4 linked regions of the Homo sapiens genome follow. The protein of the gene in region 4 interacts with the protein of the main gene of each other region in a pairwise test. Each region holds a gene or a part of one and is shown on either strand. Other genes may lie near its edges. The genes, in order: POU6F2, ZNF410, SPDEF and TTC23.

Region 1 (7,040 bases), on a different chromosome or scaffold from region 4:
GATCCAGCTCAGGACACAGCGCTGGCTTCACAGAGTAGAAATTGCTCATATATGCCTTTCCCCTAGGATTTCTCCTCCCCCAAGCAAGCAATTAAGCAGTCTAGTACTTGGAAGAACAAACTCCCTGCCTAGTATATCAAGATGAAGAAACTTGGTTCATTCACACAATTTTTGGAAATCAAATCAGATTTCTGATAGCAATTACCTGTAGTTAGCTTCCTAACCCCTTGAAGGTAGGATGGATTGTTATTCATGGGATGATTTTCAATTCAATTCAATTACACAGTTAATCAGTTTCTGATCGTTGGTTTGATTATCATTTAGAAATGAAGACTTGCATTTCCATCTCTTATGGCCATGTTTAGTGCTTCGTTTCTTTTTTTTGCAGACCTGAGCTTGTGAGTGACAGATTAGTTCATCAGTACTGCGGACCTCCTGTTTTTGTTTTTTCTCATCTCATACAGTCGGGTCACTGTGTCCAATACTCCTTCTGGCACTGCTGTCCCCAGAGGACTTAGGCAGCCCACCATCCTGATGCACAGGCCTGAGGGTCCCTGTTGGCTTCACGTCTATAGACTGACTTTTGCAAATATTGCAGAACAGAGGATATTAAATTAGTTGTTAATAAAAACAACAGATGAACCAAATTAGATGAAAATATTTATCAAGTATATCTAAGAGTTTGCTGGGAGTGAGAGAGAGACAGCTGGATAAAGTGATCATGGATGCACTTCCAGTTGACATTGCTAAAGTACTAGTAGAAGAGAGAAGAGACCACACATTCTATATTTTAATAGCATTAGAAGTGCAGTAAAAAGCTGTTTACAATTTCCCTTACTGGTACAATGGGTCTTTTATTTTTCAAAGTACATTTCGACCATGTGAAGTGTTGTAAAGTTGTACATCAGAAAACTAATGCAAATGTCTCAGACAGTGCTCAGTATGTGTGCATGCATTTGGCTTAACAGTATCTCCATGTATGTTTTCTTATATGGAGATTTTAAAACACACAAATATTTCACCGTTATAGCATCAAAACAATTAATTTTACATAGAGGTTTGTTTATACCATCCCTTGTTCCAAAAAGTATTTAATGTAGATTTAATAATAATTTGCTTACCTAAAATATGCTCAAATTGATGTGTGATGCAAGTGGTCTAGGGAGAGGGGACACTGGCTCTCATAACACATTTGAAGATTGCCCTCTGTCAATTTAGACTGATATTCGTGCCTTACATATAAAAATGAAACACTGGGGCTAACCTAACCCTGTTTTACTCATGTGAAGCATAATTCCCATATACTCTTAAAAAAAGTCATTTTTGTGGGTGTGAATGCCTGTATTTTTGAAACTGACAGATTGCTTCAACAAATTTATGTATTTTGGGAGTGTGAAATTATTACTGCTTTAATTTTATTGAGAATACTTTTTCCCCAAGGTATTATGGATGGATGGTATACTAGAAAAAATACAGATTAATTAAGGATTATTCTTTCTTATACATACTGGTGCTAGTATTCTTTTGGTAAGTTCCAGACTGACCAAAATTGAATTTGTACTATGTATTGTTTATTGACCTAAAAAACTTCACTTAATATTTCATTCATACTTATAGGAAAGTCTTATGTTAACATTTTACATTTCACCAGATGGACTTAATTTTTATTATGTTTAGAATTTTTAAAAATTAAAGCAGACATTTAAATGGTAAAGTCAATTTTGTCCATTTAAGTAAAATTTAACAATATAGTAATACTACTATCCAATAATGTTAATACTAAACAACAATTAGATGAACTTGGGTCTTGAAACTAAATTTTCTTTTCTATCTCTAAGGTCAATTAATGAAACTCTCTGTACCATTCAATTATCATTTTCAATGCTTAAGAACTTAAAACTTTTTTATTCTTACCTCTAACATATGCAGAGAGGTGGCTGCAACTTTTAGAATACAAATGCTTACAAAAGAAAGTTTGCATGTAATAAGTTTCCTGCGTGTAAAATCTATAATATTTGTTTCAGAGGTCAGTGAAGGATGTTTCTTCACTGACCTTTTCTTTGCTATGTAAACTGCATATTACCAGTTTCAAGTATTTTTCTCTTTATTGCTTACAAAAATTGGAATATAATTAACATGTCTGCAAATACTGAAAAACTTCACTTTTCAATTGCATTGTGATATTGTACAAGCTGTTACTCTTTTCTAATGCTTGATTGAGTAGAAAATAAAGTTGGGACATAAAGTGCAAACATGAAAGGATCAGACTTGAAGAAACAATGTGCAAAAAGATAAATATTGACTTTAATTTGAACGCTAAAAGAAAATCCAAATTACACAACTTCTAAATTAATTTGTAATTTATGGCCAAATCTTTACTTGGGAGATAATAGCTGCTCTATATATAATCTCAAACCTGGATTTATGTTCTTTTTCCCTTCCCTCCCTCCCTACATCCCTTTCTTCCTTTCTGCTTTTGTTCCTGCCTCCCTCCTTTCTTTTTTTTTTTTTGTAGGTGAAATGTGTATCCAATAAAGTAAATTACCAACTCAAGTTTGCTCTGTTAGCCTATGTAAATTGCTCTGTTGAGCCATATTGTCTTAAACTGATCCAAAATTGTAATCAAGATTTGTACCAGTTTTGCTTTTTACACATTTCTTCTGCATCTCAATTTGAAGAAGCGGTTGCGAGTGAAACACTATCACTACATTTCAGTAAAGATTTATTTTTCTTTTTATTATTTTCTTGTTCTTCCCAGTTCCACAATGTGAGCCAATTGTGGTGAATATTGCTTAATTTTTACTGGAAAAATTCCTTCCTGGTTTTCTGTATGCTTGTGTTATTTTTCCACACCCCACTTATAAATGATCATATTATTGTTATTTCAGGGATAGCACTTCTCATAAACGTAAAACCATTGTATGTAAGTAATAGCAAAATAATTGAAAACATCTTTGATTATTTACATTAAAGGAAATTCTCTAGGTTTTAAAACACTTGTTTTTCAGGTTGGCTGGTCTTCAGAAAATAGCTTTTTGTTTTATCAGTAGCTTTAAAACCCCCATGGTATGAAAGATTCTTTCTTCAAAAGACAGACATTAGCTGTTGATACTTGGCACTGATTCTAGGTGAAATGCAACCCTATTCCTTTCAACAGCACTTTTTTAATTATAAGACAAAAAAAATTGAAGATCAACTGAGTATTCTCACTTTCACCTATTTTCAGCCTTCCCCCGACCCAGGAGGTACATTTTTCCCATGGGAAAAAGTACCCACATAATTTCCAGCACTTCCCTAGTCCTAGGGTCAAAGATGCAAATAAACGTGTTGACACCTTTAATGAAAAGGATATAGTCGCTCAAAAGTATTGCTCTGACATTTTGTTCTCCTTCTTCACTGCCATTTCTCCATCAGCTTTTCTTCTCTTTTCCACTGTGAACCAGAGTCAGTTTGATGAGTAATAAGTGAAAAGCGAAATCTTTGTGGGCTTCCCAGGCAGGAAAGGGCACTGGAAAGAGAGACAAGACCTCGAGCAAAACAAAGCAAAAAGGCAGCAGAAAACTCACCAATATACTTGCTTCTTTAGTTTATATTTCTAAGTTATTTTGTAAGCTTACCTCATCTCACCTAGCAATTCAAATCACACACAAAAAATACAGTGAAATAATACGTTAGCACAGGAAAACTAGAATTAAAAAACAAAGTCTAAGAAAAGGCCTCACAGTGCTTGTGCTGTACACAAATTTCAATATTAAGGAAAACTTTTCTTTAAATCTTTAGAGTTTTTACAAGAGGTTAGCCAGTGCTCCGATGCTGTGAAATAGTACTTATTATTTCTGGAGTTTAATATGATGTTGACCCTGCATATTTTATGACTTTGATTTTTGATGAATAATTTAAAACTATTTTTAGAAGAAAATATTTATCTCTAACATCTAAAAACTTAGAGAAACAGGTATATTTTTAAAAGAATACATACCTGTTAAATGGTGTTTTTAGCATTGATCAGAACTCAGGCAAATTCCTGTTCAAAAGAACAAAGCACAACATTTATAGGGAGCTTAGTTTTCAGTGCAGAATTCATATACAGATTTTTTTAAAGGAAGTAGGTTTTTGTTGAGAGTAAAAGGTAAATATTGTACCAAGACAGAAGCAAGGATACCAGAAGCCGTAATTGATACTGAGGAAATATGAGAAAAGTAGATATTTCTTAATTCTTCAGTTCTTTTCCTCCAAATTGGAAGGGCAGAATGGGCAAGAATGGAGCTGGACACACAATAGTAGGGACTATGGCACGCCAAACTTGCTTCAGACACAGCTAGTTAATTTTGTAAGTCTTAAATAATACTAGAAAACAAGCCTCTTTCAACCTTTTCTCCAAAAGGTTGAGAGTTAGGACAAATGTAAAATGCTGCTTAATGGGCACAAATAAAACAAGAACATCAAACTCATTTCACTTAGTGTCAGTCCTGATGATTCATCATTATGGTCAGGGCGAACTCTGGTCTTTGGGCCGAAACAATTTTATCCATTAAAAAAAAATCCAGAATGTTCCAGCTTGAATCTTATATCCTTAGGGTTACAATATTGAATTCCGAATCGGGAAACTTAATCTTGCAGCCAGATTTGACAAGATGCTGGTTGAATGGTGGGCAGAAGTGATGATTGTGGGATGAAATGCCCTAGGTCAGAATTTGAGAAAAATAAGAGATTTTGTGAAAGTTTGGCTGTGATATAAGAATGCCAAGTTTGAAAATTTCTCTCTGTTCATATCAGCAGATGGTGTTCCAGGGTCTTAAAAGTAAATCTCTGCTGTATTCATTTTCTCTGTTTCAATATTTCTTGAACAAAGTGAGTCTTTACACATTCTTAGGTGCATTTCTTGGTGTATTTCTAGAACTGCTAATACAAGAGGTGTTTGTAGTAATATTCAGAAGGTTTCTGGGAACGAAGGCTAATATGGCTCAAATCCCAAACAGTCCTACATTGTTCCTAGGTAATATATTAATCCTCAATTCAAGAACTAAAGTTGTGATTTCTTTTCTGAAAACTTTTTTCATTTGTAAACAAACCTATATCTAGATTCCTAGTGACGAAAGAATTTAGAGTAAAAATGAAAATGAGGCAGTCTAGCAATCTAATTCATTAACACACACGCACACTCACAGACATACTTTAAACATTTTGGGAATACTTGACTATTTAACCTCTAATAATCTAAAAATATTTTGTCTCTGTTTTCAATCTTAGTACCTGAAAAAATTATGACAGATGTTTACTTAAAATACTCCTCTCAACTTGGTTGAGAATGGAAAAATACTTTGCAACTTTTTTGTTTTTGTTTTGAGATGAGGTCTTGCCATGTTGCTGAGGCTGGCTGTGAACTCCTGGGCTCAAGAGACGCTCCCACCTCAGCCTCCTGAGTAGTACTTTGCAGCTGTTAAACATCAAGTTTGTGGTAAGAATTCGAGTACATAGTCGATTGGAAAACTGCAAACGTATGAATATTGTGGTTATTTCCTTCCAAAAACAGGGGGGCTCTTTGGTTTGCAATGTACTGCCATTTGTACTAGTGCTGAAACCTATCAACTGCAATTGCTTTCTCCCTTTCTACCTTTATTTATCAAATAGAATTTAAACAGCTAGTTCAGGCAGAGAGTGGAACATCTGAGTAAAAGTGACAGTACATGAACGCAATTCTTATATGCACGTGATTGAAGTGAGTTAATTACATGGTAGACTCCTATGAGTATTTTTGAATTTTTTACTAAAAAATTATAACAGTAATTTCTGCATATGGCAAACCATTGCAATAGCACAGAATAATATAAAGTGGAAAGTAAAGTATCCTGATTCCACTCGCCACAAATAACCACTGTTAACTATTTCTTATATATCCTTCCAGAGATTTTCTGTGCATGTATATGCAATCCTTACACAACCCAAGTAGAACTATACTATACATAGAGTTCTGCAACTTACTTTTACATATAAAAAATATTTTGAACCTCTTCTCATGTGACTATGAATAGATCTGCATCCTTCTCTGTAGTACTCCCTTTTATGGATATACAGTGATTTATTTAACCAGTTCTCTCTTGATCTAGCTTTTAAAAATAAGTTAGTCTCTGCAATCAGTCTAACAAGTAGAGAAGTTTCATTTCTCTTAACATAAAAGATTTCAGAATTTTCCAAATAGGATTTGTTTGAGCAGAAGAACTCATAAATAGTGTCTCCTGAGAGAAGGTTAAGTGTAATGTTAAAAGTGAAGAGTAGCTTTATGCCACAAGAAAAGATACTTATCATCTATATATTGAATACTCAAACCAATTAAAATAGCAATAAAGATCACAATATTTTATTTAGTAACAAAGAGGTAAGAATGACAGAGAATGGCGTAAAGAGCTGGTTCTCAGTCAGACACACTGTGACTTGAAAACCTTTATGTTTGCTCCAAGCCACCAAACTCAACTGAACAAAATGCTTGTTATTTTCTTTCATGAGCCTCAATGCTGTTTATTAAGATAATTGACATAGATGTATGTTTCCAATGCATGATTCAGTTAGTGTATCTAGATTAGTGAAAAAGAGACCAGAAGAAATTCATGGTAATTAATGTCAGTTAAATTTCTGTTTTCTGTATTTCATATTGTCAGACCAATCCTTCAACCCTGATTCATAAGTTAAATAATGCAGTCACAAGCAGGGCTAAATAAAAACATGTAATGAGACTTAGCTCTTGAATTCTACTAATTTAGGGTTCTGAGAAGGTAGACAAAGTGTACATTATTGAAATATTCCAGAGAATGTAAAAAGTTATGTTTTACGTTTCTTTTAGGATATGTCTCTGCTCGTTCTCTTTAATTACGTCACCTCACATATACTAAGAAGACAGTAACGTAGGTGGTAATGAAATCTTATATTTGAATAAAAGATGGGAGTGTGAGCTGACCATGCCATCTTTCCCTACACAGACTTCCAGAATTGAGCCTATGGAACTGTCCATTGGGTAGGTGTGTTCTTTTTCCCTCTTGTTTCTT
Region 2 (7,040 bases), on a different chromosome or scaffold from region 4:
CAGTCAGAATGAAGAACTTCAGCCAACACATAATCAAATTCACTTTTGGTCTATCCCAGAAATTTGCAGTGGGAAGAGAGGTAGGTACAGTTTCCCAGCCCACAGTCATTGCTTCATTCCTTGTCTGATCAGATGGTAGTTAGAAAAGAAGCTCTCCTACATCCATCTTCTATACCAGGAAAGAGGAAGAGTGGCAAAAGCAGAGTCTTGTGCCTTCAAAGATTCATTCTGGTTCTGTTGTGGGCTAAGGCATCCTGTTCCCAGTATACGCATTTTGAGATCAGATAGAGTTGCTCTTCCAGGAGTCAGCACCCACGCTCATGTCCGTCTTTCAGTTAAATCTCCTTGGTTTAGTAACTGTAAAAGATTGAAAGCAAATCTAGAATAGGTTACAGTTGAATTATAGAAAAAATAATTCATAGTAAAAAGTATTAAGAGTGGAGGATGGAGAATGCACTACAGGGGTGAATGAAGGCTATCTACTTCCAAAGCAAACACATGCACGGACTGATAGATGTCACTGTGGCCTTGGGACAGCACTTTAGCCATGTCATAAGGCTGGCATTTTAACTCTGGCAATCAAATATTCTGAGTCTATAAGCCAAACTATTGTTTGTGTAGTTACCTACTCATCAGTCAGTGACAGAGGAATCTCTAACTTACAGGGAAAACAGAAATGGTGGAACCAAAATCTTATACGTGTCAGCCAAAGGATAGGCTGAAGGCTCAAGTAGGAGAAGGAAATAGGAAGAGGAGCTGTTCCTTTATAAGTACTATATGAGAGCTGAAACCCACTCATAAAAGATCTAGGGGTTCCTTGGGCTTAAAAGAATGATAAGCCTAAGGGACTCCTGCATAATGGCAACTACCACTAACATTCTACTCTATACACAAGGCTCTATTCAAAGGAGTTTTGAAATAATGAAATTGGCTTCCATTTTAATATAAAAACAAAATGAGGCTGGGTGCAGTGGCTCACATCTGTAATCCCAGCACTTTGGGAGGCTGAGGCAGGAGAACTGCTTGAGACCAGAAATTTGAGACCCACTTGGGCAACACAGTGAGGCCCTGTCTCTACAAGAAAATTTTAAAAATTAAGCATGGTGGTACATGCTTGCAGTCCTAGCTACTTGGGAGGCTGAGGGAGGAGGATCACTTGAGCCCAGGAGTTCAAGGGTGCAGTGAGCTATGATCATGCCACTGCACTGCACTCCAGCCTGAGTGACAGACTGAGACTGTTTTCAGACACACAAAAATGAGATGGGAACAATTCAGTAAAATTCAGAACAAAAACAACTTATTAAAATCTAATCAAATAAATTCTTCAGCTTGAGATGTATTTACTTGGTGATCCTAATTTGGATGAAGGTAATTTATACAGTAGAATTTAATGATTGGGCTGGGCACCATGGCTCATGCCTATAACCCCACCACTTTGGGAGGCTGAGGGAGGAGGATTGCTTGAGGCCAGAAATTTGAGATCAGCCTGGGCAACATGGTAAGACACTGTATCCACCAAAAAAACTTTTTTTTAAGAGTTTAATTATATGGAATTTAAAGACTTTTAAACAAAATCTAAAGAAAAAATTAAACCTTAAAGAAACCACATATTCCATTTGATGCTGTGTGGCAGGAAAGTTAAGAATAGTGTGTTTTTAATGGAGGCCAAGATCCAGATCTTTGCAGTCAAACTTAGCAAAGGTACTTTATGAGAAATATTATAGAATTTGTAATTTCTATTTGTGCCTTGATTTGGAAAGCATTCTAAGAGGTAGTCAAAACTAGCTGGGAATCTCTTATACTGGTTCTTGAGTTCAAGAATGTGAACTCAATGTAAATATGGAGCCCCATTTAGAATGACCTTTAGTAAGTATGACAGCCCAAAAGCCCTGGGGTTCCCAGTTGGGCCTGTGCAATGAGTCCTCCATCTAATTCTCAGATGTGGCACAATAATGAGGGAAAATAGAGATTGTCCACCTGAACCAGAGAGGTGACTTGTAGTTTCTGATATTTTTCCCATGGTAATTTTTCTTCTTTTTTTTTTTTAAAGAGTTTGGCTCTGTCACCCAGACTGCAGTGTAGTGGCAAGATCATGGCTCACTACAGCCTCAACTTCCTGGGCCCAAGTGATCCTCTCACCTCAGCCTCCCAAGTAGCTAGGACCAGCTAATTTTATTTTATTTTTTGTAGACATGGGGTTTTCCTGTGTTGCCCAGGCTGGTCTCAAACTCCTAAGCTCAATTGATCCTCCCACCCCAGCCTCCCAAAGTGCTAGCCACCGCACCCAGCCTCTCATGAAAATTTCTGATAACAGATTTGGTTGTTCTCTGATATTCTTGATAAGCTATTTTTATTTTTAGAGCATATTTACAGGAAGTACAAGTTCATCAGTAGACTTTGATCCATACTGCTTGGTGATCTCCAAAAAAGGTGAAACGGACATGTGTTGCAAATAGCCTTCACCTTCTCTGGCACCTGAAAGTTCTTAAGGAATCAACATTCCTCACTCACTGGAGAAATAGCAAGTTATTACCTAGACCTTGGATGAGGAAGAGGCCTAAGCCTGGAACCCTGAGGGCCTCACAGCTTGAAAAAAAACTGAAGGTATTGGAGGACCCAAACTAGTGAAGAAAGAAAAGGAGGGGATAAGCAGTGGAAATGCCTGTGATACGAGGAGGAGAATAATGCTAAAAGTGAAGAAAACACAAAAGAAGTGAGGCTCAGACAGAGGGTATGTTTGTAAATATACAAAAACCCATGAGGAAAAAGTGACAGTGCAGGATTTTGAGCTACATCCAGGACAGCACTTTCCCTTTTGTGTTGTTAATATTTTTCTAAGTGTTTTGGGCTTCCATTATGAAACTGGGTTTTGTGCCTTCCTGGAGTGAAGACCATACTTCCTTTTTTTGTTTGATTTTTGGGATAGGATCTCTCCCAGGCTGGAGTGCAGTGGGACAATCATAGTTCACTGCAGCCTCGAACTCCTGGGCTCAAGTTGATCCTCCTGCCTCAGCCTCTGGAGTAGCTGGGACTACAGGTATGCACCACTATGCCTGGATAATTTTTTAAAAAACTTTTTGTAGAGACAGGATCTTGCTCTGTTGTCCAGGCTTGTCTCGAACTTCTGGCCTCAAGTGATCCTCCCACCTTAGCTTCCAAAAGTGCTGGGATTATAGACATGATCCACCACACCCAGGTCTTTCGTTTTTTAGGCAGCCTGTGTTATGCTGTCTCCCTGAGGCTGTAAGTGGGCAGCACCTATTATACATGGATGCTCTGAGGCCAATTCCAAGACTTGTGCCTAGGTTCTAGGGAACAAATGTACTATTACTGGATATTCTGAATACACAAATCTGATCACGTCATACCCTACTTCAAACCATGCAGTGGTTCTTCAGTGCCCCCAGGATAAAATCATGCCTTGTAAGACCTTTCAAGAGACTAGCTTATCTTTCCAGCTCTCAATTTTCCTCTCCAGCCCATCTCTTCATCCCATGTCCCATCACACTCAACCCTATTTACAGTTCCACAGAGGCCCTCTACTCCCTTACCTTCTACCTTTGTACACACTGCTGTCCTTCTGCCTGTTATATTCTTCCAACTCCTACTTCTCCATCAAGATGATGTCTATTCATCCCTCCCATCTCAACTTAAACTCTAAAACATATTCTCTGACTTCTCCCAAGACTGGAACGTACTACACTTAAAAACTGCCAGTTTAGGCTGGGCGCAGTGGCTCATGCCTGTAATCCCAGCACTTTGGGAGGCCGAGGCGGGTGGATCACCTAAGGTCAGGAGTTTGAGACCAGCCTGGCCAACATGATGAAACCCCGTCTCTATCAAAAATACAAAAAATTAGCTGGGTGTGGTGGTGGCCGCCTGTAATCCCAGCTACTCAGGAGTCTGAGACATGAGAATTGCTTGAACCCAGGAGGTAGAGGTTGCAGTGGGCCGAGATTGTGCCACTGCACTCCAGCCTGGGCAACAGAGTGAGACTCCGTCTAAAAAATTAAAAAAAAAAAAAAAATTGCCGGTTGATTAATTGGTCACTTCTCCCATCCTAACCTCACTGTACAGTGCAACTCCAGCACCATATATATAGTTATGAAGGTCCTAATTCTGCCTATAAGCTATTTGAGGCAGAGACTATATTTTGTTTACTATTGTATAACTAGTACCCTGCAGAATGCCCCACACATACTAGGTATGTGGTAACTAGCCGCTGAATGAATTAAATTTTCATACATCTGGCATTTATTTGGGTAACGTGGAGAATTTTAAAGATATTTACCAATACAGGAGAGAAAAGCTCTGAGGTTTCAAATATAAAAAAGAAAAGGCTAGGTGCTGTGGGTTGGCTTGCTCGAATAATAATGTGTACTAGGTAAAAGAAAAACGAGATGGTTTTCCTGAAATGACGATTTCAGGGCAACCCTATGGTTGATGAGAGAAGTATTTCTTGTATAAAAGAATCACAATTAGGCCGGGCGCAGTGGCTCATGCCTGTAATCCCAGCAGTTTGGGAGGCTGAGGCGGGTGGATCACCTGAGGTCAGGAGTTCAAGACCAGCCTAGCCAACATGGTGAAACCCCGTCTCTACTAAAAATACAGCCGGGCGTGGTGGCACCTGCCTGTGGTCCCAGCTACTCAGGAGGCTGAGGCAGAAGAACCGCTTGAATTCGGGAGGTAGAGGTTGCAGTGAGCCGAGATGGTGCCACTGCACTCCAGCCTGGGCAACATAGCAAGACTCCACCTCAAAAAAAAAAAAAATCATAATAAACACAGAGGGAACAAGAGAATTAGGATATCACCATTTTGCAGGCCTTAATGAAAAATAGATCTAGGCTATGATCAGTAATGGTTGCCAAAACCTTTACATAACCTACCAGTCAATCTTAAGATCAACTGATTGTCATGTGCCTCCTGATGAGATGTAATAGGAAGCAAGAGCACCATTTATGAAATATTCTTGCCAAGGGGGAAAAATTGAATCTAATCAAACCTCTAAATGTAACTACCAGTTTTTAGGAAATACAGTGGATAGAGAAATTAATATTAACAAAAGGAGTCAATCAGCCAAAACCAGAATGTGGGAAAATCTTTAGGACAAAAACTCCCAATTCCTGGCCGGGCGCAGTGGCTCACGCCTGTAATCCCAGCACTTTGGGAGGCCGAGGTGGGTGGATCACTTGAGGTCAGGAGTTTGGGACCAGCCTGGCCAACATGGTAAAAGCCCGTCTCTACTAAAAATACAAAAATTAGTGGGGCTTGGTGGCAGGTGCCTGTAATCCCAGCTAATTGGGAGACTTGAGGCAGGAGAATTGCTTGAACCTGGGAGGCAGAGGTTGCAGTGAGCCGAGATCACGCCACTGCACTCTTGACCTGGGCCACAGAGTGAGACTCAGTCTCAAAACAAAAACAAAAACAAAACAAAACAAAAAACCCAGTTCCTTAAATAGATAACCATACTGAAAAAAAAGGACTATTATAAAGAGAATTAAGAGAAGTATTAAACAAATGCAATATACAGACATTGTTTGAATCCTGACTCTAGCAAACCAACCATAAGATATTTTTGAGGGGGAGGAAAAAAAGAACATAGACTATTAGAGAATACAATAAATTATTGTTATCTTTGTTTGAAGTGGTAAAGATATTATAGTTTTTAATATTGTATCTTGTTAGAGGCATATACTGAAATATATACAGAAGAAATGACATGCCTACAATTTGCTTTGAAATACTCCATCATAAACAGCAACAACAACAAAAGGAGGAAAGAGATAAAACAAGAACAGTATAAAGTTAATTGTGTTTTTGTCTTTTGAGACAGGGTCTCACTCTGTCACCCAGGCTGGAGTACAGTGGCACAGTCACTGCTCACTGTAGCCTCAACCTCCCAGGCTTAGGTGATCCTCCTACTTCAGCCTCCCGAGTAGTTGGGACCACAGGCACATGCCACCACGTCCCGCTAATTTTTTTTTGTATTTTTTGTAGAGATAGGGGTCTTATGTTGCCCAGGCTGGTCTTGAACTCCTGGATTCAAGCAATCCACTTGCCTCCACCTCCGAAAGTGCTGGGATTATAGGCATGGGCCACTGAGCATGGCATAAAGTTAACTGTCAAAGTTAGGGCCAAGTGCGGCAGCTCACACCTGTAATCCCAGCACTTTGGGAGGCTGAGGCGGGTGGATCACTTGAGGTCAGGAGTTCCAGACTAGCCTGGCCAACAGGGTAAAACCCTATCTCTAATAAAAATACAAAAATTAGCCGGGTTTGGTAGTGGGTGCCTGCAATCCCAGCTATTCAGGAGACTGAGGCAGGAAAATTGCTTGAACCTGAGAGGCGGAGGTTGCAGTGAGCTGAGATCGCACCACTGCACTCCAGCCTGGGCGACAGTGGGACTCCATCTCAAAAAAAAAAAAAAGTCAAAGTTAGGAGACAGGTGTGAGCTGCCGCTCTCAGCCGTAACTTCGACTTCGACGTGGGTTTATCATACTAGTCTCTCTCTCACTGTACTCTGAAAATTTCCATAATAAAAGCTTTAAAATAGAAAAATGAAGACAAGAAAAATGGAGGAGAAAGAGGAAGGCTCCGTAAGTGAGATATGTATGATTCATTCCAAAGCAGTTACCAGAAAAAGTGACTTAGGAAAGAACCAATGATATCAAGATCAAAAACTTTAAATATAAGCAAAGACAATGGGTCACAACAATAAAAAGAAAAGTCCTGGCAAAAGCATTAACATGTATGCCCAGAACCCTGTAATCCTGGGTACCCCCAAAGATATTAGAGAATAATGGAGAATATTCAATATAGGATGCAGAGTCATTTGAATGATGCAACAGCTTACTGTGGTATAAAGGTTATAATGAAAAGAAGAAGGCTGGGTGCAGTGGCTCACGCCTGTAATTCCAGCACTTTGGGAGGCTGAGGTGGGCAGATCACGAGGTCAAGAGATCGAGACCATCCTGGCCAACATGGTGAAACCCTGTCTCTACTAAAAATACAAAAAAATTAGCTGGGCGTGGTGGCACGCAC
Region 3 (6,967 bases), on a different chromosome or scaffold from region 4:
AACTCGGCTTGTGCAAAGTTTGCTTTGGGAAGAGTTGTTCCACCTGACAGGCCACTCGCTTGGCTGGGGGCACAGGGTGGGGCATGAACGGGGTGGGGGTGGGGACCAGGGGAGGGTCCCAGAAAAGGTTTGATCCCTGACTCTCTGCTCTCTAGCTCTGGGGCTGGGGCCAGTGACTCAGCCCCCTCTGAGGCTCATTTTTCTTGTCTGTTAAATGGGCTGTCAAGAGTATGTCTTAAAGGGGTTGTGGAGATTGAGATGGAGGGTGAATGGAAATCATTTATGATGGGTTGAGTGTACATGAGGGGGGCCCTGGGCACAGGTGAGGGGATCAGCTGGAGAAGAGGAAAGAGAGAGGGAATGGGGTGAGGAAGCCGGGGAGCAAAGGAAGAAGCGGAAGGTGATGGGGAGTAGAGGGAGTGGGCGAGAGAGTGGAGTCTGGGGGGAGCTGAGGATGGTGGTGAGGGAGGCTGGGGCCCTGTCCTGTTCTCTAGCCCAGTCCAGGCAGCTGCAGGCTTCACCCACCCTCCCTGCCCTCTAGGAGGAACCAGAACCAAGAATTCCTGCCCCACCCACTTCCCCCCGGCCCCCGCACCCGCCACCACCCCCCAACGCCCAGGAGACCGGCTGGCAAATCCAACTCCTACACAGCCTTCAAGGTCCTGCTCCAGGCTGTCTCCTCCGTGAAGCCTGCTTTAACAGGCAATAGCCTTGTCTAACCTTGTTTCACAGACAAGGTGTTGCAAGTACAGTGAGGAAAAGTGACCCGCCCACGGTCCCACATGGCGGGACCTCACCTGTTCCTTCTTGCCCTCCACCTTGAGGGTCTGTGTCCCCCTGTCAGACTAAATTAACTTCCCCGGGTTATACTCAGGCTGCAACAAGTCATTTAGCACAAAACTGCTCTAACGGTTTCAGGGCTATTCACTTTATACTCACAACGACCTCAGTGGTAAAAAGTGGGTTCTCCCGGTTTTTGCACTTCCTGCCAGCATCACACTTTCTGAGCATCGACTGAGCACCTACTGAGTGCAGCCCTATTCCCTCAGACTTGGTTGACAGAGAAGCCCTATCGAATTCAGAGGGTCCTTGTGAAAACCAAAGTGTTTTACAACTGACAGTGTGCAATAAGCAAGTCTGGTAGTTTTCAGCTCTGGATACCCCCACGGGGCCTCACTCAGAGGAAATGCTTGTACATGCACTGTCAGCCTCTCAAAGGCGAGGGTGGGTCCCCTACGCAGTGAGACCACCTCCTCCACACAGCCCCACCTGCCTGGGAGCTCCGAGAATGCCCCCCACCATTTGTCTGTGAGTTTGGGGTGGTGGGACTCCAAGCTGGGGGTCCTTGGCTCTGGCCCCTCTTGCAGGTGGGTGGAGGGAAGCTCAGCCCAACTGGCCTGGCTGAACCATGGCCTGGGCCTGCCCGTCTGGTGGGGCGTCTCCTCCCCATCCCTGCCCACCAGCTTGGGCCTGGGGCAGCCTGGACGCCTGTTTGCTTTGTTACTCAGCTGAGCAGCTGGTGATGGGGAGATGCAGCTTTATTGGGGAGGTTGCGGCAGGAAATGAGGCAAGTCCCAGCCCTGGCCGAGGAGGAGGAGAAAGCCCATGGCCATCATAAAGGACACAGGCTACGCGGGGCTCATGGCCTGGGTGTGGGCTGCTGGGCGGCCCCAGCTGATAGGTGAGGTGAGGGATCTTGGCCTGCCCCTCCCCAACATGCACACACACGCACACACACATGCACATGCAACACGCACGCGCACATGCACACACCACACACACACATACTTCCGCGCACACACACGCACGCACACACCTCCACCAGCCTCAGGGGCACCCAGTCGCCCAGGCCCTTCAGCTTCCCACCCTGTCATCCCACCACCCACTTCCTCTCTCCACCGCAGAAATCTGGCAAATCTTAGAAATGAGCACCTTCGAGGTACTGCTACTGTTGCTTTCCTTGTGTGCCAAGACCAGGACCCAAGGCTCTCAGCTTCCCCCAGTGTCCAAGGGCTCAGAGTGTGTGCTCAGCGGTGACCCCAGCCCCCTGGTTCCTGTGCCCATCCCTGCCCAGCCCAGCTACTGGGCTCTGGACCTGTCTCCCCTGTCCCGAACTGGACCCGGCCTTAGACTTAGCCCTGACCCATCAAGCTCCAGCAAGCCCCTGCCCACTGGTGGCCTGGCACCAGGGAGACCCTTTCCTCAGCAGAGCAGCTGGGTTGGCAGCAGCAGCAAGCCGCTTGTGTTTCTCCAGCCAAGCAGAACTGGCTGGGTCTCAGGGGCCGGGGCTCTGCATCTGCACGGCGGCCTCCCCTCAGGCTGGGCAGACTGGGCTCAGTGTGGGGGACCCCAGGCCTTGCCGGGCAAGGGGGCTCACCCAGCATGTAGAGTTGGCCCAGAGAGGCAGTCTGGGGAGCATGAGGAGGGGGCAAGGAATTCTGAGGGTAAAGGGATCCAGGTCACAGGGTCACTGATGACTGGGAGATGAGCTCTGAGCTGGCAAAGTGCGCCCCCTCCAAGTCCTGCCTGCAGTCGCCCACCCCCCAGCTGGCAGGGAAAGACCCCATGCCAGGGTACCCCCACCTCCTGTTGGACTCACCTGTTAGCTGCCTGGTGCCCAGGGAGCTGTCTGCTGCAGTGCCAACTTCAGGGGCCGGGAAGAGGTGTGGGCAGCTGAGGCCACTGGCGTGTCTCAGCCAGGCATCTGGGGGGCCAGCGGAACCAGGGGCCAGCAGGGCTGGTGGCAGAGGCAGCACTCAGGTTGGCCACTGGGGGCCTGGCCACCCTCAAGGGGTGGCCCTCTGAGGTCTCAGGGCTGCGTGCCTGTAGGGAGTCCCCTACCCCCAGCCCAGGGCTGCCTGCTGGCACCGTGGCAAGGCCCAACCTGAGGGGCTTGCAGGGAGCTGGCAGCAGGCTTGGAGGACTGGGTCTGTGGGGCAGTGTGGACACGGCAGAGTGCAGGAATGTGCTGGGAGGAAGTCAGACAGCCGCGAGATGAAGAGTTGGCCAGGGCCTGATTTCCCATTATAAGTAATCCTTCCTTATTTACCTGAACAAATACACTCCTTGCTTACCTCAGACCACAGGCAGGCTCCTGATTAACCCTTGCAGGTCTCCCCCTCCTTGCTGGGGGATCCATGCCCTGACAGCTAGGGGACTCATTCATTCACTCGCTCATTCACTCGTTCATTGGTTGCTGCATAGCCACTCAGCTCATATTACGTGCAAGGCGCCAGAGATACGTCGAGTGGGTCCAGGGCTGGGGTTCTAAGATGGATCAGCTGAGGGCCAGAGACAGACAAGTGAGCAGCAGTGGAGATCCAGAACCACCCATGCCCAGATGGAGGACTGAGGGGGCACTGAGGGTGGGCACCAACTAGGGAAATCAGTGAGGGCTTCCTGGAGGAGGTGCTGTCTGGCTACTCAGGCCAGGGATGGAGAGAGCTTCAGAGAACCCTGGGGAGGGATCCCGAGGCTTGTGGGCCAACCACGACCTGGTGGGAACTGTGTTCTCTGTGCCCCACAGGGTCCTCATGCAGACCTGTCACACAGTGGCGGTGAGGAAGGACTCCTAGCTCGCTTTCCCAGGCCCGTAATCGGGGGCCAGCCAGCAGCAACTTGCTCTCCCATAGCCCCAAAGGGTGATGGCAGGGATGCCACGCAGGACAGAGGTACCCACCACCAAGCACTTGCTGCCCCAGACCCTCCACCTCCTTGAGCCCTGCGGGGGCCACACAGTCCAGCTTTTGGCTTCCTCCATGTCCTGCCAGGTGGGCTGAGAGTTGTCCCTGGAGGCTGGGCCTTCCTTTCTCCAAATCATCTCAGAAGGGCTCCACGTACCTGCTACCTCCATTCTGACGGGAGAAAGTTCTAGATAATGCTGATTTTTCTCTTGTTTCAGGAGTAACTGTGTAACTGCCGAGAGCATGAGGATTCTGGGGCTGCAGGGGATCCCAAGGCCTTTAGAACTAGCCCCTCACCTTCACCAATACCCACATTCTCCAACGTAAGGTTGCACTTTGCACCCCCAGGGAGCCCTGTACTTGGCTGTTATCGTCACTGGCACCTTGGTTGAGGATCAGTTATCAGTCATTCCCCAGAGAAGGTTGAGGGAGGATGGAGCGGAGGAAGGGGAGGTAACACAAGGTCCTGAAATGGTACACTCGACCACTCCTAATCCCCAATGGTCCAGCCCTCCAGGGTCAATAAAGAAAGACACGCTGCGTTTCCAGGTGGATCTCCTTCCCCTAGAGTGCGTTTTTGTGCCTGCTTCTCTGGTGGCCACGCCTCCCTCCTCCCCACTCTCACAGAAGCCTGGCTTATATCACAGCATTCTGATGCATTAATACTAATGACCACTGCTTAACAGGCACCTACTGTATGCCTGTATGTTCGATGCTCATGAGATGCTAAGCTATTAATCATACTGTAAGTACTATAATGTGGGTAAGTACAAGGAATATCTAATAAATGTTTATTGAGGCTGGGTGCGGTGGCTCACGCCTGTAATCCTAACACTTTAGGAGGCCAAGGTGGGCAGATCACTTGAGATCAGGAGTTCAAAACCAGCCTGGGCAACGTGGTGAAACCCCGTCTCTACTAAACATACAAAAAATTAGCTGGGCGTGGTGGCAGGCACCTGTAATCCCAGCTACTTGGGAGGCTGAAGCAGGAGAATCGCTTGAACCCAGGAGGCAGAGGTTGCAGTGAGCCAAGATCGTGCCACTGTACTCTAGCCTGGGCAATAGAGCGAAGCTCAAAAAAAAAATGTTTATTGAGTGGATAAGGTGTCAAAGATAGCTGTCCATTCTCCCCTTTTCCTCAGTAAACAAGGCTTGATTTTTATTTTTTATTTTATTTATTTTTGTAGAGACAGGGTCTCTCTATGTTGCCCAGGGTGGTCTCGAACTCCTGGCCTCAAGCAATCCTTGTACCTCGGCCTCCTAAAGTGCTGGAATTACAAGCATGAGCCACTGTACCTGGCCAAGGCCTGGTTTTTAGCTGCGCACGTGGCTACCTAGAATTAAGACTATCCCAGCCTCCCTTGCAGCTAGATGTGACTATATGACAAAGCAGAAGTGTCATGTGCCAAGATTTCTAGGAATCTTTCTTAAAAGTAAGCTGGCATGTACCATTAACTCCATTCTTATTTATCCTTCCTCCATCTTGCTGGGTGGAATGCAGCTGTGATAGCTGGCATTCTGGCTGCCATCTTAGACCATGAGGACAAGATAGTAGAGTAGGCAGCAAGCTAGAAGGAGCCTGGGTCTCTCAGGATTATGTAAAACCTCCATACCAGCTGCAGACTGCCTGCCTTAGGACTTTTATGAGAGAAATGGACTTTTCACTTTTGTTAAGTGGGAATTCTTACTGGTGTGGCCTCACTCAAGGCCCAAGGGAGCATTTCACAGGGGTCTCCTGAATGGATGGGCCCAGCTAAACTGTACTGGCTGTGGACAGGGTCTCTACCCATTTAAGCCTGGAGTAGGGAAACAAATGTTGCCTCTGGAAGCTGGAAAAGGTCCACCAAGAGGGAGCAAGGGAGGGCTCCCCCATCTGCTCAGCTGGGCTCACACAGGCCCAGCCTCCAAGAGGCTGCTTGGGGTGGACATCAGTGGTGTGCCCAAGGTGGGTTGGATGCCCATCTAAGGCAATGCTGGTGGGCTTCAGGGGAGGAAAGGCCAACTTTCCCAATAAGGGAACTCTGGGTGACACACATCCTCTTGACCCCCTGATCCACCGGGCATGGTGTCTTGGCACCAGCTTGGGATTTGATCAAGTACATGTCCTGATTCTGTAATTTTCCAGCTTTGTGACTTTAGGCAAGTGTCTGAAATCTGCTGAACAGTCACCTCCCAAATCCAGAGAACCCTGAGAGTTACTGTGAGGAGGGAGAAAATGCTGGTCAAAGTGTTCCATGAACCTGGTTGCCCTATTCCAGGGCCTTGCTGACCACCAACCTGGCCACGTGTTTGACAAATGCCATCTTACTCCTCACAGCAACACTCACAGGTAGATGTTGCTATGCCCATTTCTCTTTTCTTTTCTTTTCTTTTTTTTTAAGACAGAGTCTTGCTCTGTCACCCAGGCTGGAGTGCAGTGGCGCAGTCTCAGCTCACTGCCACCTCTGCCTCCCGGGTTCAAGTGATTCTCTTACCTCAGCCTCTCGAGTAGCTGGGATTACAGGCACGCACCACCACGCCCGGCTAATTTTTGTATTTTTAGTAGAGACGGGGTTTCGCCATGTTGACCAGGCTGGTCTTGAGCTCATGACCTCAAGCTATCCACCTGCCTCGGCCTCCAAAAACGTGAGCCACTGGGCCAGGTATATGCCCATTTTTCAAGTGAAGAAATTCAGGCTTGTACATTTAAAATGTCATGCCCAAGGTCACAGCTGGGAAGCAGATTCAAACTCAAATCCCTAATTTCCATGACTGCCCCATGCCCAGTAAAACCCTATTGCTACTCTCACGTCCTCTCAGGGCCAAGTCCCGGGTCCCTGGAACAGGTCACTGGGTCCACTAGACTTCCTGCCTCCAGCTCCCTGGGCTGGACTCCTCTCTAATCCTCCTCTGGCCAGCTCTCATCAGGTTAAATGTGCCCCCTCCTGTTTGCCCTCCATCCAGACCCCACCCATCTGTTGTGGGCGATGCCTGCTCCATGTCCACCCCTTCCAGATCTGGGGTCTAGTACACAACCCCAGTTGGCTCAGTGTGACTCTGTCCTGGAACTTTTCTCCAGCCTACTGAGATAACAAATTATCTCTTGCCACTAGAGTTTCCAAGCCTTGACGTGTTAAGTCAGGAGCTGCTACCCCCAGGGAGAATAGGGACAGCCCAGAAGAGGAGGAGCCAGACGCCCTCCTGACATCGCCGTGGGAACACCTGGATGAAGCTGCCATTCCCTTTTTCTGTCGTTCAAATGGACTTGAGTCCCTCCTATTTTGGTGGAGAGAACCCCCATCCTT
Region 4 (5,799 bases):
TAATCAAATATACACTGGACAATTTGTGGTAAAAATGTCATCATCACAGCCTGAATGACTAGTGGCAGTAGGACACCACCAACCATCCCATTTGGGATGGAGAGGTTTCTTGGGATGTGGTACTTTGAGTGCTAAAACCAGGACTGTCCTGGGCATACCAGGACAGTTGGTTACCTTATAAGTGCAAATTGGAGGGTTAACCCTAAGGCATGGCCATTTCTTAGGGGCTTGAAAAAACTGAGGTAGTTTGAGACAAAGGAATAGCTAGATATCTTTACCCGTTTGTAACCTTGTAGCCCTTTACCAAAAATAGAAAAACACAAGTAGCTATAGTCTTCCTCTCGTTGAAGTCAACAGAATTAACAGATGGGAGACATTGGAGGGAACATTCCTAAATTCATTGCTTCCTGGGGTGGGGTGGGGTGGGGGCGCTAAATTTTAAAAATGTGTTTTAGTTTTTGTGATTCCAAGCTACGCTTCAAGAAGTACAGAAAGGAAGAAGTAACATCAGAATTCACATTTATTTCAAAAACTCGGCATGGACTCTCAGTTCAGGCTGCTGTAACAGAAAGCCGTAGCCTGAAAGGCTTAAACAACAAACATTTATTTCTTACAGTTCTGGAAGCTGGGAAGTCTCAAGGTGCCAACAGTTTCATTTCCTGGTGAGGGCTCTCTTCCGGGCCTGCAGACGGCTGTCTTCTCACTGTGTCCTCACATGGTGGAGAGAGAGATCATCTCTCTGGTGTCTCTCCTTATAAAGCACTAATCCCATTCATCAGGGCTCCACCCTCATAACCTAATCACCTCTCCAAGACCCCACCCCCAATACCATCCCTTTGGGGATTAGGGCTTCAACGTGAATTGGGAGCATATGAACATTCACCCCTTAGCTGACTCCACCCATGTCAACTAGATAGGACACACGGTGAGTAGTGACATCTTACACGTTTTTAGCACACTGCTGATGTCCGACAGGCCTGGGTCTGGGACCAGTGTGTACCAGCAAGCATGGTCTGTGGGGTCAGCTGTCACGCTCCTGAGGAAGACAATGGTCCCTGCTTCTCTCCACCCTGTCGTGGCTCTACTGAGTTTATTTTCCCCATCAATACTGGAGGTGGTGCCCTGCACAAATGGCCCCAGGGTGGTTTTGATGTCCCACTGGGGGCTGGAGGGGAGGGCCCTGTGCTGCAATCTGCTGTCATAGCACCAGCCTGCAGCCTCATGGCCACAGTCTGTGGGACCAGGGGAGGGAGGGGAAGGGACATCACTGCCCACACCTGCACCCCTACCCCTGGGTGTTCCATCCACCTCGATCTGGCACTGGATCTCCTCGTTGACATCGTGGAGGAAGGCACTCAAAGCTTCCTGTTCGACTTTGCCATCCTCACACGACTATGGCCTCCTTCCAGGGGGCTGAAGACTGCTGTGTACACGATAGTGTGCCAACTCAGGAAGCAGCTCCAGGTGGCATCCAGGTTTGTCCTGCCTGCAGTGGAGGCCACAGGAGGGATGCGAAGCAGCAGGGAGTCTGCGGTCTTCCCCCCGCAGCCTCCGGCTAGCCTTTCTTTTCACTCCCTTACACCTGCCTCCTGGGCCCCAGGCCAAGTCAGGTGTGTCGGCCTCCTGCCCCTCCTACTGGGCTCTTTCTCAAACCCCTTTTCAGGCTCCGAAGAACTCTGAGGCAGGCTGCACTTTGAAAACACATGCTGACAGCAGCGTGTTCAGGTTTCCCTTTATTAGCGTTTTCTTCTCATGTTATTCTCAATCCCTATTAGCCTCCTATAAGAAAGGACTTCCTGAAGTTCACTGTCCAGATCTAACTCCACACCTATGCAAGGAGCTGTGTGTACAAGCAGATGCCGGGCTGACTCCTGCACAGGGCGCACTGAACTGTTGAAGAGAAGTTTTTCAGCCACAGTAGTGCTGATGGGTAAAAATTCTTGTTGGCAAGAAAAACCACTTAGGTGATAGAAAACTGCTTTATAGCATATATCACCCTGAAGGGCATCCACTGTCAAAATGTGGCCCACGGGAGGCTTATGGTCTCACTGTTGCATGTTGGGGCCAACAGTTGGCCTTGGAAATCTGTATCCTGACTGTTGAATTCCATTTTCTAGGCGGAGGTGATTTGTACAGCACCCTAAATGACAGTGCCCAGGAATGTCCTAGGCTTTTTCAGGGTGGGGGCCTCAGTCTGCTGTTGTGCCGGGCCGGGCCTTCCCCAGCAGGGTGTCCTGAGGGATGCTGGTGCAGAAGGCCACTTTGGCTTTTGATGCCTGCCTTGGCTTCGAAGCAACCTTGGGGGCCCTGCAGACAAGCAGAGGGTGGGGTGAGTGTGGTGCCCCTCAGCCCCCCACACCGTTCCCATCCAGCCTTTGCTGCCCAGCAGGTGCCCAGACCCATTTATGAGAAGACTTGGTAGGGGCTATAAATGAGAGGAGAATTGTAGCACAGAGCATAAAACATGAGATGTTTTCCTCCCATCTTTTATTTTTTTAATTTTTTTTTTTTCAGACAGAGTCTCACTCTGTCACCCAGGCTGGAGTGCAGTGGCCCCATCTCGGCTCCCTGCAACTTCCGCCTCCCAGGTTCAAGCAACTCTCATGCCTCAGTCTCCCGAGTAGCCAGGATTACAGGCACATGCCACCACGCCCAGCTAATTTTTGTATTTTTAGTAGAGACGAAGTTTTGCCATGTTGGCCAGTCTGGTCTCAAACTCCTGGCCTCAAGTGATCCACCGCCTCGGCCTCCCAAGGTGCTGGGATTATAGGCATGAGTCACCTCGCCTGGCCCCTCCCATCTTTTAAAATCACCTGTGACCATCCTCACTGAGCTGAGGCCCTCAACCCTTAGCTGGCTTGGTGAGCAGGACATGGGTGAGGAGGATGGTCAGGGTTGCACTGGAGGCCTCCCTGGCTCGCCTTCCCTGCCCTCAAAGGGGATGGCGCCCTGCTGGCCAGGTTGTGTCTGCTCCGGGCTGTGGCCCTGTTTCCCTGAGCAGACTCAGGCAGCCCTGGGGCTGCTCTCTGCGGACCAGGCTCTGTGAGGTAGGCCCTCCACGGCAGAGCGCTGGGCCTCTGCTCGGGCTGAGAAAGGACGTAGGGGCCAGCCTTTAAGGTCAGTCAGTGAACCTTCCGGCTCCAGTCCTGACGGGCATCCGAGGGCAGAGGGAAGCCGGAAGCAGGGCTGCAGGAGGCCACAGGGATTCCCGGGGCCCTCCCCCTGCAGCAGGTGCCTTAGCCTGCAGGGGCTGGTCTGCAGGAAGACAACATCCAGCATATATTTCTGACTTAAAGGATGAATTATTTTTAAATACCTGGGCAAGGAAGATCTTTTACAACTCGGGTTTCAAAGGAACTTGTCCTTTATGCAAGTTATGGGAAGTCAGCAAAACATTCCAGAGAAGGTTACACAGAACCTTCTAGAACCAGCTTTCTCTTGAGATTCTGAATGGAAAGGGAATGAGATAGAGAAAGTGTGAGGGACGCCAACTCACGTGGACAGCATGCCCATGGCCTGCTGGGTGGCCAGAGTCCTTTTGTCCTGCGGTCCATATAAGAGGGTCTGGATCTGGAGACACTGTAGAACACCAAGCAGCTATCATGAGGCTATGGAAGTGTCGCTGAGAGCAGGAAACTAAGGTCTCCCTTGAATGAGAGAAAGATGACCTCATTCTTAGGCCCTGCTGTGATGGAATTAGCATGCTCCTGGGATGTCTCCTAGTGACTGACCTTTGGTTTGGATGTTCTGAGGGATCTAGGCAAAAGTGAACAGTTTTAGCACTATTTCACAAAACTCTCTGTGACTATCTGTATGCAAAAAATAGATTTAAAAGTAGTATTTTTAAAAATAAAGGCAAGAACCTTGGTACTGACCAGAGGATGGGCTCCAGTTTCTATTTTTAAATGTGGCCCTTGTTATAGCCTGGAAAAGATTTAAAAAAATAGTTTTGTTTTTTTTGTAAACACATACTCTACTTTTATTAATATATAGGCTGTCTATACTCTTGACTACACAGCAATGTCTTAGTTATTAGGAACCAAATATTCAGCTTATGGACTACCCAGGGCTGGCTTTGGCTTGATTTCTCCCTTCTGCTTACTTTAAGTCTTGCCATTTGATTGCTTGTAGTAGGCTAGGGCAAATCAAGGAGAGGAGAAAGATTAAAGTTGTGCCCAAAATGGCCAAAATAATTTTGAGAAAGAATGAGGTGGAGAGGTGGAGGAACTTGCTTTACTGAATGCCAAAGACCCTTTTATTTTTTTAAATAAAGTAATTAAGACAGCATGTTTGTCACCCGGGGTAGACAAAAAGACCAGTGGAACAGGGCAGAGAGCCCAAGCCTTGACAGATGACAGAAATGGCCTTGCGGGATTGGTGAGGAAGAGGTGGGCTAGTCAATAAATGGGTACTGGGACCGCTGGTTTTCCAAATGGAAGAAAATGGATCACTACCCCAAATCAAACACAAATATTAAGCTCAAGAAAGATTTGAAGGACTAAGTGTGAAATGCAAAACTTGGAGCTTTTAGATGAAAATACTGGAAAATATATATATATATATTTTTTGATGGAGTCTCACTCTGTCGCCCAGACTGGAGTGCAAGTGGGGTGATTTTGGCTCACTGCAACCTCCACCTCCTGGGTTCATGTGATTTTCCTGCCTCAGCCTCCCGAGTAGCTGAGATTACAGGTGCCCGCCACCACACTCAGCTAATTTTTGCATTTTTAGTAGAGATGAGGTTTCACCATGTTGGCCAGGCTGGTCTCAAACTCCTGACTGCAGGTGATCCACCTGCCTTGGCCTCCCAAAGTGCGGGGATTATAGGAGTGAGCCACCATGCCTGACCGGAAAATACGATCTTGAGGTAGGGAAGTATTTCTTAGACAAGATCTAGACAAAGCAAAAGTGAAAGACTGATAAAATGTAACTATGTGAAAACCTAAAATATTTGTGCACCAAAATTCACCATAAGCAAAGTAGAAAGACAAGCCACGCTGAGGAAAGATTCTTGCAGTGCACAGAAATGAGAAAGGTTTAACATTCAGAATACATGAAGAATTCCTATAAGGTAATGAGAAATACCAAACCAAACCAAAACCTCTCAATAGAATAACACTCAAAAGATATAAACAGATTATTCAAAGAGTTGAAATCTGATGAAATAAACATGCTTAATCTCATTAACAACCAGAAATACAAACTAAAACCTCAATGAGGTAGGTACCATTTCACCCACCAGACTGCAAAAACTACCAAGTTTTGTTAAAGATACAAAGCAACAAGAATTCTTTTATATATTGATAGTGGGTATTCAAACTGGTATAGCCCCTTTGTAAAACAATTTAGCAATATTTAGTAATGAATATGTAAACTGTGATATGTATATATTATATATGTATGTGATATATAAATGTTTGATATATGTATGTGTATATATAACCACATAGATGAATCTCATGATTACAAAGTCAAGGGGAAAAAGAAAACGACAGATGAATGCATATAATATGTATTATAATTTAATATGAAGTTTTAAAACATGCAAAACAAAACCATAGTAAAATAAGAAGAGCATGGGAATGATATCAAATTTAAAAAAGTAGTTATCTGGGGATGGGGTAGGTATAGAGGGGACTTCAACTGGATGGGTCATGTTTTATTTCTTATACTGAATGGTGAGTTCAAAGGTCTTTGTTATGTTATCCATACTTTTCTGCATAACAAATGTTTCATAATATATTTTTTAAAAATCGGATGAATTGTGCTACATAAATAGCTTGAGTAAAAAAAAGTGTG

What was found.
Region 1: the proteins of TTC23 (region 4) and POU6F2 interact in binary tests that used the Homo sapiens proteins (3 or more experiments, as listed by UniProt).
Region 2: the proteins of TTC23 (region 4) and ZNF410 interact in binary tests that used the Homo sapiens proteins (3 or more experiments, as listed by UniProt).
Region 3: the proteins of TTC23 (region 4) and SPDEF interact in binary tests that used the Homo sapiens proteins (3 or more experiments, as listed by UniProt).

What each region holds. Positions count from the first base shown.
Region 1 is NC_000007.14:38,980,898-38,987,937, forward strand, and holds part of POU6F2 (POU domain, class 6, transcription factor 2), read left to right. Parts: exon of another isoform or gene 1-609; intron 610-3,352; exon of another isoform or gene 3,353-3,508; intron 3,509-3,979; exon of another isoform or gene 3,980-4,024; intron 4,025-7,040. UniProt on the Homo sapiens protein: Probable transcription factor likely to be involved in early steps in the differentiation of amacrine and ganglion cells. Recognizes and binds to the DNA sequence 5'-ATGCAAAT-3'. Isoform 1 does not bind DNA.
Region 2 is NC_000014.9:73,924,820-73,931,859, reverse strand, and holds part of ZNF410 (zinc finger protein 410), read right to left. Parts: intron 4,754-7,040; coding exon of another isoform or gene 4,632-4,753; intron 358-4,631; coding exon 319-357; 3' UTR 1-318. UniProt on the Homo sapiens protein: Transcription factor that binds to the sequence motif 5'-CATCCCATAATA-3', and is specifically required to silence expression of fetal hemoglobin in adult erythroid cells.
Region 3 is NC_000006.12:34,553,330-34,560,296, forward strand, and holds the start of SPDEF (SAM pointed domain-containing Ets transcription factor), read right to left. Parts: upstream 3,001-6,967; 5' UTR 2,600-3,000; intron 31-2,599; exon of another isoform or gene 1-30. UniProt on the Homo sapiens protein: May function as an androgen-independent transactivator of the prostate-specific antigen (PSA) promoter. Binds to 5'-GGAT-3' DNA sequences. May play a role in the regulation of the prostate gland and/or prostate cancer development.
Region 4 is NC_000015.10:99,135,821-99,141,619, forward strand, and holds the end of TTC23 (tetratricopeptide repeat protein 23), read right to left. Parts: exon of another isoform or gene 3,925-5,799; coding exon of another isoform or gene 3,876-3,924; exon of another isoform or gene 3,757-3,875; coding exon of another isoform or gene 3,580-3,756; coding exon 3,497-3,579; exon of another isoform or gene 3,447-3,496; coding exon of another isoform or gene 3,408-3,446; exon of another isoform or gene 2,308-3,407; coding exon 2,190-2,307; coding exon of another isoform or gene 2,141-2,189; 3' UTR 767-2,140; coding exon of another isoform or gene 617-766; 3' UTR 503-616; downstream 1-502. UniProt on the Homo sapiens protein: Participates positively in the ciliary Hedgehog (Hh) signaling.